Linked DNA regions of Homo sapiens: region 2 is linked to region 1. A link means that fine-mapping ties the variant in region 1 to the expression of a gene that starts in the linked region. Tissue or cell type: thyroid. Region 1 holds a variant in brackets; the other region holds the start of a gene. All regions are shown on one strand. Distances are between the middles of the regions.

Region 1 (5,368 bases):
AGAAAACATGGGAAATAGTTGTAAATACAGGATAAATAGGTAGGTAGTAGACTCTAAGGTAACTGCTCAATTGAAGTCATAATGCAAGCATCTAACCTTTGTGAAAATAATGTGTTGAATAATTATAGGGCCTGGGCTGTAAGGCCCAGAGAATGTCAGAGTAAAATCTCAGGGATGGTGGGAAATAGAGACCTAAAAGAATATATAGGGCTTTTAGTCTCACTTTAAAGTGATAATTTTCTTACAATTGGAGCAAATGGAGAAATTAGAAATGAAATAAAATGGTCAAATATAATTACATAAATTTTTAACTTGTAAGTAATAGAAATAACTAGCAATAAAAACCAAAAAAATCAACACACATGAAAAATAGAATTATCAGCACCAAGTATATGAAAATTTATTCAAACATGCATGTGAACACTAATAATATTCCCAATGGATAAATGGGCAAAGGACATGATTATATGATTCATGCACAGGAAATATGAATAGTAAAATAAATTTGAAAAACAGTTTAAATTTAATATGAATAAGGGAAAAGCCTCGCAAAGAAAAAAAATTTAAGTACCAATTTAATCCATCTTTTTTTTTTTTTTTTTTTTTTTTTTTTTTTTTATTGAGACAGAGTCTTGGTCTGTTACCCAGGCTAGAGTGCAGTGACGCGATCTCGACTCATTGCAAGCTCCACCTCCCGGGTTCATGCCATTCTCCTGCCTCAGCTTCCTGAGTAGCTGGGACTACAGGCACCCGCCACCATGCCTGGCTAATTTTTTTTTTTTTTTTTTTTTTTTTTGGATTTTTAGTAGAGACAGGGTTTCACTGTGTTAGCCAGGATGGTCTCGATCTCCTGATATCGTGATCCGCCCACCTCAGCCTCCCAAAGTGCTGGGATTACAGGCGTGAGCCACCGCACCTGGCCAACCCAATCAATCTTATTTTACCAGCTGATTACTTTAAGATGAGAGAGTAAACAGTAAATTAATTGCATTAGTATTATTAACCAAAACACCTGGTATAACTTATAACTCACCCTGGGTGGGTGGATATTCGATAATAATTAACTGTCAGTAGTGAGTGGTAGGAGAGCTAGTATGGGTAACTGCAGTCGCCAAATCATCAAAACACTTATTTGCAGACCGTAAGACCACATTAACGTGAGGCAGCTAACGTGGGGGGAAAAGGTATTTAGAATTCTTTCAATTTTACTTATACCACTTTGGTAACTGGACTGCAGTAAAACAGATAGAGATCAGACCCCAGAAGAACAGGAAAACTAGGCAAACAGGCTGGATACTCCACAGGAAGAGAATCTGCCCAAGAACAAAGTCAGCGTCCCTACTTTAACGAATATTCTCATGACAACACCTTGGCCTCGGATGAACTCCTGCTTTGTGACAGCGTCGTGGGATGCAGCAGGGCTGTATGGACTGTTCCTGGACTTGGCACGCAAACAGCGACACAGGTGGGTATCCGCTTTTCCCTCTCCCTCAGGCCTGTTCTGGGTAGACAGGGAAAATCAGTTTTGATGCCATTGATGATATGCCCAATATGTTTGTGCACGTGTGTCCTCAGGTCTCTTTAGGAGTAAGCTATGGCATGTCTCTCATCATGGCCAGGGATGGAAGGGCCAACAATTAAATGAATAATAGTAAGCACTCACTAAGTATTTGTTGTGGTTATTAATGTTGCTTTTACCTTCAGTGGGAAGAAGGCAAATAAAGATGAGTTTTTTCCTGGAATCTAGATGGGCTCTCTTGTGGTGTCAGAGAGGGCGGGCGCCCATGGGACAGCTGCAGCAGAGGGCGGGCAGACGAGGCCCACAGGGGAGCCCAGCACCTGAAGATGATGATAGGCAGCAGCAGGTGGTGTCTGGGAGGTCTGACAGCCACAGTCAGGGCCTGTGGTTTTCAAACACAACTCCAGGCTGACTCACTGAGGGAGATCCAGTAAGCTCTTCAAACCAGTGCCACCTACCACCCCCACAGATTAAGGGCAGGATTCGTCGGGGACCTGAGGCAAGGCTAGGGGACAGAAGGTGTTATGGCAAACAGGAGTCAAGAGGGAAATGGGGGAGGAAGTTGGAGAGCCAAGCAAGTGGTGGTCACAGTACCTTTCTGAGAGCAGTCATTGGTTATTATGCTCTGGAGGAGAGGAGGAAATA[C/T]GTAACAGAGACCTTCAGAGGGAACGAGCAGATCGCACATTTGTTCTTTCCATATGTCCAGGTGAAGACTGGATGTCAAGCTGGTCCCCACTCGTCTCCTCCCCTCCTCCATCTATAAAATAAATGTACTTTGGTCCTAATATTTTAAGCGCAATTACCCTAAACTCATTTGGAGGTCCATCCATGGGGTACTTTTAATAGTTCTTGTCTGCATTTGGTGAGTCTTCACATCAGTATATCTTCCTTGGAATGTAAATTTTTGGAAGGAAGGAATCAGAGCTATGTGGTTCTTTGAACAGTGTGTAACACTGTAAACAATTAGATGACTTATATTTTTAAGATGAAGATGATGCTACTTATAAAATGAATGAGATTTGTGAAGCCATTCTTTTTTGTCGTAATATGAATGGGACTTGAAAAGTTAGTATTCTGCTGGTGAGAAAACAGCAGTGTCACTTCTAGTTCTTAATGTGAAACTAGCTTTTGTATTCCTCTTAAAATGCTTACCATTGTAATCCCACTTCTAGAAACCTTAGGTAGGGAAATAATAAACAATGTGAACAAAGATATATGTGTAAACACATGAGCACCTAGATGCTTAATTATAGGAAAATGGCCAGATGAAGCTTAGTACAGCTGTAAGATAAAATATCTAGCAGTTATCAAAATTATAGTTAATAATTTTAACAGGAAAATAATTATGTTAAAATAGCAAGTGAAAAAAAAACATGCAGTATTTTTTTCAATTATATTTTTCCAAAGTATAGAAATAATTGGAAAGAAACGTATCGAAATGCTAAAAAAAAAAAAGAGGGCATGAGGAGGAGGGCCTGTATGGCAGAAAAATGGCTAAGAGGTGAGCAATGAGGAAATGAAATGTGTCAAGCAGAACTAAGGAAAGGAAAATTCAGTTTTTTGAATACTCTGTGCAAGCAATGAAATAAGCATTTAATAATTCTTGTTAATAATTAAAGATAAACATTGGAGTAAGGCTACAAGGAGAAAAGAGCCTCTTTCCACAATGAACAGAAACCTCCCATCTTGGCTTAGTTGAAAGAATGGAAAGCTAAGATACTTTGAAGTCTGAATGAGTACATGAGATGACTCAGGTGTGGTTAGGAGCCCATCACCTCTGCTGAGCAGCTAAACATGACAGTGAAACTGTGAGTACACATTTGAGAAATGGGATTTGCTGAGGCCATATATGGGAAGAGGGGATAGGCAAGCCATTAAACCAGTCTGCTAGTTTCTAAACCTAGATGCCCATCCAGAATTACATGAGTAACTATCTAAAACCACAGGTATGCAGCCAAAAAGGCACAGGCCAAAGTAATTATATCAGGGCACAGATGAAACAAAATACGGGATGGGCAGTGCATAGAGAATGAAAGGAACTAACAATGGCACAGTCACCACTCACTGCAGCCTCAACCTCCTGGGCTCAAGTGATTCCCATGTCTCAGCCTTCCAAGTAGCTGTGACTACAGGCGTGAACCACCGTGCCAGCTAATTTTAGTATTTTTTGCAGAGACAGGGTTTTGCCATGTTGCCCAGGCTGGTCTTGAACTCCTGAGCACAAGCAATCCTCCCACCTCGGCCTCCCAAAGTGTTGGGATTACAGACGTGGGCCACCGTGCCTGGCAGAGCATAATGCTTTACATGGGCTTACTCACTTATCCCCTCACAACAGCGTTCTATACTAAGTGTGGGTTTCTGCATTTAACCCCCTCATTATTTCCTCCCTTACATTTGCAGTCTTTACCTTTCTACTGACTCATCTTAGTAATGCTTAAATATGTTCTTCATCCCCTACTTCTCTTTCAGCTACTCTGGAAATTACCCTACTCTGTCCTCCCCTTCAAAGCCCAAATTCTCTAAATGATTAAGTACCCATGGTCATTTCCTCATGCCCACAGGCTCCTCAACCCATTACCATTGGGCTCATGTGCCTACCTGCTTTCTAAAGCTGCCTTCACCAATGTTACCAGGAGCCTCCTCATTGATAAAACTCATTGGATACTTTCCATTCCTTACATTATATGACTTTTTGGCCACTTTAACCTCTGAGATCCAGTTTTAGAGTTACATGTCTAGCTACTTAATGGACATCCCACAGCTTCATTAGACCTCAAATTCAATATATTCTAAGTTTACCTCATCTTCTTTCCAAAGCTACTCTTGTTCCATGTTCTCTATTTCAGCAAATGACACCATCACCAAAGCTGGTCTTCCTTCTTTCCTTCACCCCCAAATACACTTGGCCACTAAACCCCTGTACAGTCTACCCCCTACCTGCCTCTCAGAGCTGAGGTGTACTCTTCTCCATCCCTATAGTACTAGGCTCATATCACCACTCCCTTGGTAGCCCCATCACTGGACTTCCTACCCTTCACCCCTCCACTGACCTACCACCATCTCTATTCTGGTCCCTGGAATGCAGTCCAGGGGATCTTTCTAAAACACAAGTCTGATTATGTCAGTCCTCTACTTAAAAATTTTCCGTGGCTTTCCACTGTCCCTAAAATAAAGTCTAAACTTCTTAACATGGTTAACATGATTCTCTCCAAGTTTCATCTTCAACACATCCCCTTCTGCACGCCACACTCCAGCAATACTTCTTGCTGTTCCTCCAATGTAGGTGCTGTCTTCTCTCTCTGGTTGTTTCCAGTGCTTGAAACAGATCTTCTGACTTTTCTTCTGGCTAAGTCCTTCCACATCTTTAGATCTCAACTTATGTCACCTCCCCTGGAAAGACATTCCTCAACCCCCAGTCCGGGTTAAGTATCCTTCTTCTGGGCATCCACTGTATTACAAATGCTCTTAAAGTGGCCTCTATTTAACCAGCTTACTTGATACACATAATTTCCTTTGTAAAGCACACTGACTACAGCCCTGCCCTCCCCAATGCTCAAAGCTGATAAGCTGCTGTCTATACACTCATCTTACTACTGCTCTCACCAGTTGAATTGCATTGTATGCCTACCAAGTGTCAGATGTGTTTGGTCTAAGTTCTTTTATAACAATTTTACTTATTGTTATAGCTATGTTATTTGAGGAAATCTTATGTAAATTAATAAAATATAAGTACAGAAAGTTGTTTTTATAATGTACAAAGACATAAATGTAAGCTTCTAAAAGTTGCTTTAATGGATATAAAGTTGTAAATGGAAAGAAATCATTAAAAATCTAAACAGATTCTACTCT
Region 2 (5,368 bases), 41 kb after region 1:
AACTCCCTCTTCCTGTGGGGCAAGGACTCTGGGCCTGGCCTCCTTACCTCCTTAACCGGTTCAGAATCCTTTGAGCTCAAACCCAAACAATTTGAATCTCATCAGACCAAAGACAAGATCCTCCCAAGCCCCCGCCCCTCAAAGCCATTTAAAGCCAAATCAAAACAAAACAAAAAGGAGGGTTTTAATCAGAAAAAGAATCTTTTTAATTTGTATAATTTATTAGAAGCTTCTTAGGAACTATATTTAAGCCAAATATCTACATAAGTTACAACAGAAAAAGACTGACGCCGCAAATACCAAACTGCCAAATAATATACACAGATTTGTCAATGCCCATAAAAAATGTGAAGGGCTGGGGACTGGGAGTGGTTTTTCTTTTTACAACAAAATGTACAGATTACTAAAAACTAGGCATTTAGTCCAACTTTTGACAGCGTTTTACAGCTACAAGTTCACATTAAACAAACTATTTTCGCGGAGGGCGGTCGCCGCTGAGCCTAGGCGGCCAGAGGGTGCCGGGGAGGGGGCACTTCCTTTGTGTCAGTGACAAGTGGGTTATGTTGAAGACTCTTTCCTCTCCCCAGCTCCCGTCCTCCCTTCAAAAAAAAAAAAAAATCCTGGTATTTACAAGCGAGTCCTCTTTGCTGGCAGAGTGTGCCCAGAGTGAAGTTTGGTCTTTAGAGTCCAGAGCCATGTCAGCACAGAGCCCTCTCCAATCTGTGCCCCGCCCTAGCGTGGAAAACCCATTTGAATCACCAAAAAAAGACACCCCAAAGCTGTTTTATGCCCTTCTCTGCTTAAAGATTCCTTGAGATTGGATGCGCTTGGTTGTTTTTCATTTTCTTTTTTTAAAAAAAAAAACCCACAAATTTTAGGGGGGGAAAAAAAGAAAGACGTCCAGCAGTTTGGCCTTTGTGGTTTTTTTGTTCCTTGGTCTAAACGCGGCCAGGTTGTTAAGAAAAGTCGAAGCGCGTGGAGCAGCGGTGGATGGTGGTCTGTGTGGCGGGCAGGAGGGAAGCGGTGAGGCAGAGCGCTGGGCTAGGGCCGGCCCGGCGTCCTCTCACCAGGTCCGACCGTATAGCAAGGTGGAGCAGGACATGGTGCCGTAGTCCGAGCCCGAGGAGTTCAGGTGGGACAGGCTGGATACCTGGCCCTGCAGCGCCGCGGGGCTGGCGGCGTGGTGCGCCAGGTCCGGAGACTGGCCTGCGCTGCCTGGCTGGTGGCCCGGGTGTGCGCCAAGGCCGGCGCCACCGCTGCCCACGGAGATGGCCGCTGCCGCCGCCTGCGCGGCCTGCGCCTGGTGCTGCGCCTGCTGCTGCGCGTGGCCTTGTAGGCTGGCGGCGCCCGGCGCGGGGGCACCCGCCTGGCACGGTTTGCCGTCTTTCACCAGGACCGGCACCGCCACGCGTCGCGGCGACTGCTGCTGAGCCTGTTGCTGCTGCGGGCACCCGGTGCCCCCGCCGCCCCCGCCGCCGCCGCTGTCCTGCTGCAGTTGCTGCTGCGCCGCCTTGTCCTTGGCCTGGCGCTTCATTTTGTAGCGGTGGTTCTGGAACCAGATCTTGACCTGCGTGGGCGTCAGGTGGATCATGCTGGCCAGGTGCTCGCGCTCCGGCGCCGACAGGTACTTCTGTTGCTTGAAGCGTCGCTCCAGCTCGTACACCTGCGCCTGCGAGAAGAGCACCCGGCGCTTCCTGCGCGGCGCGCTTGGCAGCGGGGCCATGTTCTTGCTCACGTCCCCCAGCGAGCCCAGGCCGCCCATGCCGCTCATGTTCATGCCGCTCGCCGGGCCCATGAAGCGGGAGACTGTAAGCGACAAACGCACAGCGTCGGCCGGGGCCAGGCCGAGCCAGGCCACCCCTGTTTTCCGCGCCATTGGCCCGCCCGGCCCGCCCCAACCGACGGCGCCCTCCTGACCCAGGCAGCCTAGCGCTGGGGCCCAAGAGGCCCATCCGCGGGGAACTGCCAGCGCCTGCCCCAGGCCGTACCGTCGAGGGGGCTGTACTGGAGCGCTCACAGCCCCAACCCTGGCTGCCCTCCCTCAGTCTCAGTTCCCTCTTTCGAACCAAAAGACGCAGTGGGGGAAAGGCCGCTTCTGCTCCTTTCGTGCCCAGCCCGGGTCAGAGCATTAGGATTAGCTGGCCACAGGCGGCGAACTGGGCTCAGGCCGGGAGCTGGGGTCCTACGGTAGACCCCAGTTTGGAGAGGTTAGGAGAGGGGGTGTTGACTTCCAAAAGCTGGAGCCCCCAGACGCTTTGCCTCTTGGCTTCTCTCCTGTCAGGCCCCAGTGAGGGCACCTGCTCGGACCCTTAGAGTCCCCTCTGGAACTGCGAGTCCTCCCACCTGCCCAGACTCCGCTGGAGAGAGGGCCGGGCCGGGCGCTCGAGTGCCTCCCAACAGGGCAGCCTCCCTCCTGGCCCGGTCTAGCCTCTCCGCGCTCTGCTCGCCCCTGCTCCTTGAGCTCGGGGTCGCTTCCCTTGGCTCCCCGAGGTCTTCTGCGCCGAGCAGAGCTGCCAGTCCACCGCGCCTAGGAGACGCCGAGTACCCGCATCTGACCGCAGGACCCCAGCGCTACCAAGTGCCTGTTCTTGGACCCCCAGCCGAGCAGGGGGAAGCATCCCCAGCTCCCGCACCCAAGTCCCTGGCGCCGCTGCCGGGCCGCCCTCCCTGATGCCCAGCGCGCAGCCTGCCGGCGCCGCGCCTTCTGGACGGCTCTCGCCGCACCTCCTGAGCTCAGCCCGCGGCCCCGCAGTGGGGCGGCCTCACTTACTGGCGGGGAAGCGCGGGTCTGGGTTGGCGCCGTACCATCCGGGGCCAGAGGCGCTGTTCCTCATGGTGTCCTGGTACGGCGGCAGCTCGCTCATGTTGCCCAGGTTGCCGTTGCAGTAGCCCCCCACGGCGGAGTGCGAGAGCTGGGGCACCCCCGCCGCCGTCATGTGGTAGGCGGCGGTGACGGCGCCGTGGTGCCCCACGGCGTGCTGCTGCATGGCCGCTGTTGGCGGTGCCGCCTGGCCCTGCCTGTACGCCGCCAGCGGAGCCCCGAGGCCGCCGCCCTCCATGCCCACTTTCTTGTAGCTTTCCTCCAGGGGACTCAAGATGTCAGACACTGAGAACGGAGTCGTGTGCTTTGGACTCATCGACATGATTCGGCGGCGGCTGGAGGAGGAAGGAAGAGGAGGAAAAAAAAGGGAGAGGGGGAAGGCGAAGCCTCGCTGCTTTTTTTTTCTCCCTTTGCCAAATATTCTGGTGTTACCTTAACGCCGATCTTGTTGGATGTACACGTAACGGAGTGGACCGAGTCCTCCTTAATTGGCTTGAGTGGAGGCTCGGGGGCTGCCTCGCGTTTGTTTTAGCCCGGCGCCAGGTTTTAGGCAGCCACCAGAGGCGGGGCGTAAGCGCTAAAGCAACAAGACAATAGAAGCCTACATCTTGCCCGAGATAATTAGCTTACATGCTGATGACAAGGTAAACACCTTTAAGTTTCACTTGTCAGGATTTTTAGGTCTCAAAGAGAGAGAGAGAGAGGCAGAGACGAGACCCAAAGCATTTCCCCCCTCCCTTGGACACCCCCACCCCCATTTTTTGTGGGGTACCAGCGGAGCGCGGGGAGGAGGTGGAGGGGAGGGGAAGGAGGAGGGAACCGAGAGCGGGGAGGGCAGGAGGTGGGGTGGGGGAGTAACAGAGGAGGAGAGATGGTTGAGAGGAAGGAAGGTGAATGCTGCTTTGCAACCAACTTGCGGAGTTACAAAGTGGAACCACTTTCCAATTCGGTCGGGGTTCCCCGGGCACGGACAGGTCTTTAGGAGGAGGGGGCTGAGGGACAGGGTGGGGGTTTCACCTGAGCCTGCCGGGGCTGCTCCTCCCTCCCGCCGCGGCCTCCCAGCCCCGCGCCTTCCCACTGCCTCCGGACCACATCGGGCTTCGCTGCGCTGAGCCCCAGTCGCCAACAAATGAGCGAGCGAGTCTGGGGACGAACCCTGGGGCCGCACTGTTGGTCTACGTGTCTGTCAGTCTGTCTGCCTCTCTTCTGCCGCCGTCAGAGGGACACCTCTGCTCCCCGCCCCCTTTCCCCCTACCGGAGAGAATCCGAGCGGGCGGAGGGGGCGCTGAGTAGGGGATCGACTGCCTCCCGGAGGCTGTCCCGGATCCCCGAGCCACAACCCGCCCCCGCAGCTCAGGGGTTTTTCAGTGGGCCACCCCCGCTAACACGCCTCCCCCAAGGTCTTCCCCCCCCCCCCCCACCCCCGGCCGAGCAAACACAGCACTGGCCCCCAGAGCTGGGAGGATGGGAAGGGGTCTCACGGGAGGGTCCGTCACTGAAGTTGCCCCACCTCGAACAAACCTGGTGTCCCTGACCCTCGCCCATCTCCCAGACACGCGGGGATCTGGGGCTGGAGCTGACTTTCCGAGGACATCACAGCCCCAGCACCCGAGCCCAGAGCCACGCTGTTTTCCCCTCTGATGCTTCAGGGAGCGCGCGAGCAGGGAGCGGCGTGAGTGCCCGTCTGTCTGTTGCCGGGCGGAACTGAGCCTGAACCCCGGCGGCTGGAGCGCTGGCCAGGAGGGGGCGAATGCCGAGGTGCGGGCAGCTCAGCGGGCGGGAGGCTGGGCCGAGGCTCGCCTCCGCCCGCAGCTCAGCCATGCAAAAGTGCTCTTGCTTCCCGGGAATAACCAAATATCTTTGTTTAAAGTGGTGGCGTAAATGGCCAGTCGCTTTGTGGCCACGCTGGATATTAGTAGATGAGGATCATTCTGCTTCAATTGGGCGCCTCTCATCCGACGAGCAAGAAACTGCTTAGGAGGAAGAGGGTTTCCTGTCTGCGCGTTCCCAGGCTTCAAGTGTGGGCCCCGCGCCTTGAGGGTCCTTGGGCGCCTGGCGAGGGGGAGCTGTGGGCTGCGCTCCCCAGCGGAATCGGGGGTGTCCCCCGCGTTGCTCCGGCCAGGCCGGGGCCTGCAGCCGAGTCGACTACCGAGTGGAGCACTGAACGGCGCGGATTTTGAGACCGACTCCGGTTTTTGTCCTTGGATTTTAAACGTTTTTATCATTGTTTTTGTTTTGCTTTCTCCTTAGCTGTTTTAGTCTCCTCTGCGCGCCAGGGGCTGGGAGGGCGGAGCGCTCCCCGGCCGGCCCCGGCAGGTGCCTCCAAGACACCCGCGCTGGTCAAGGAGCTTCTTGAATTTAGTTTTTGTTTTCACATTTTCTTTCCCCTCCTTGTAGAGAAGGAGCTCCTGATCATGACGAACAGGCAGTTTTGAGCTACTTAATTCATCCGGGCTCCCTTTTTTTATTAATAGCAATTACAGTAGAGAAAGTTTTATTTATTTTTAAAGATTTCAGCCCTCTCCTTGAAGAGAGCTCTTACTCCCT

Alleles and levels. Alleles are on the strand shown, and positions count from the first base shown. SD is a standard deviation of normalised expression in the study named.
For the expression in thyroid of the gene that starts at base 3,342 in region 2, C is the low allele of the variant in region 1 and T is the other (moderate effect, 0.51 SD a copy in GTEx).

What was found.
Region 2: SFTA3 starts here. The variant in region 1 is fine-mapped to the expression of SFTA3 in thyroid (GTEx, PIP above 0.99).

The regions. Positions count from the first base shown.
Region 1 is chr14:36,475,603-36,480,970 of GRCh38, forward strand. It overlaps SFTA3 (surfactant associated 3), which reads right to left. Exons shown (of 5, transcript NR_161365.1): 3 at 2,114-2,276; 4 at 1,369-1,501. Among named protein-coding and RNA genes, the nearest start is that of NKX2-1-AS1, 41 kb to the right of the region's middle. The variant C/T (reference allele first, on the strand shown) is at 2,165.
Region 2 is chr14:36,516,215-36,521,582 of GRCh38, forward strand. It overlaps SFTA3 (surfactant associated 3), which reads right to left and starts at 3,342. Exons shown (of 5, transcript NR_161365.1): 1 at 3,254-3,342. It overlaps NKX2-1 (NK2 homeobox 1), which reads right to left and starts at 4,018. Exons shown (of 3, transcript NM_001079668.3): 1 at 3,839-4,018; 2 at 2,771-3,156; 3 at 183-1,806. The coding sequence starts at 3,915. The coding sequence ends at 1,064. It overlaps NKX2-1-AS1 (NKX2-1 antisense RNA 1), which reads left to right and starts at 3,064. Exons shown (of 2, transcript NR_103710.1): 1 at 3,064-3,465. RefSeq lists enhancers at 1,277-2,275, 3,434-4,433, 4,434-5,368.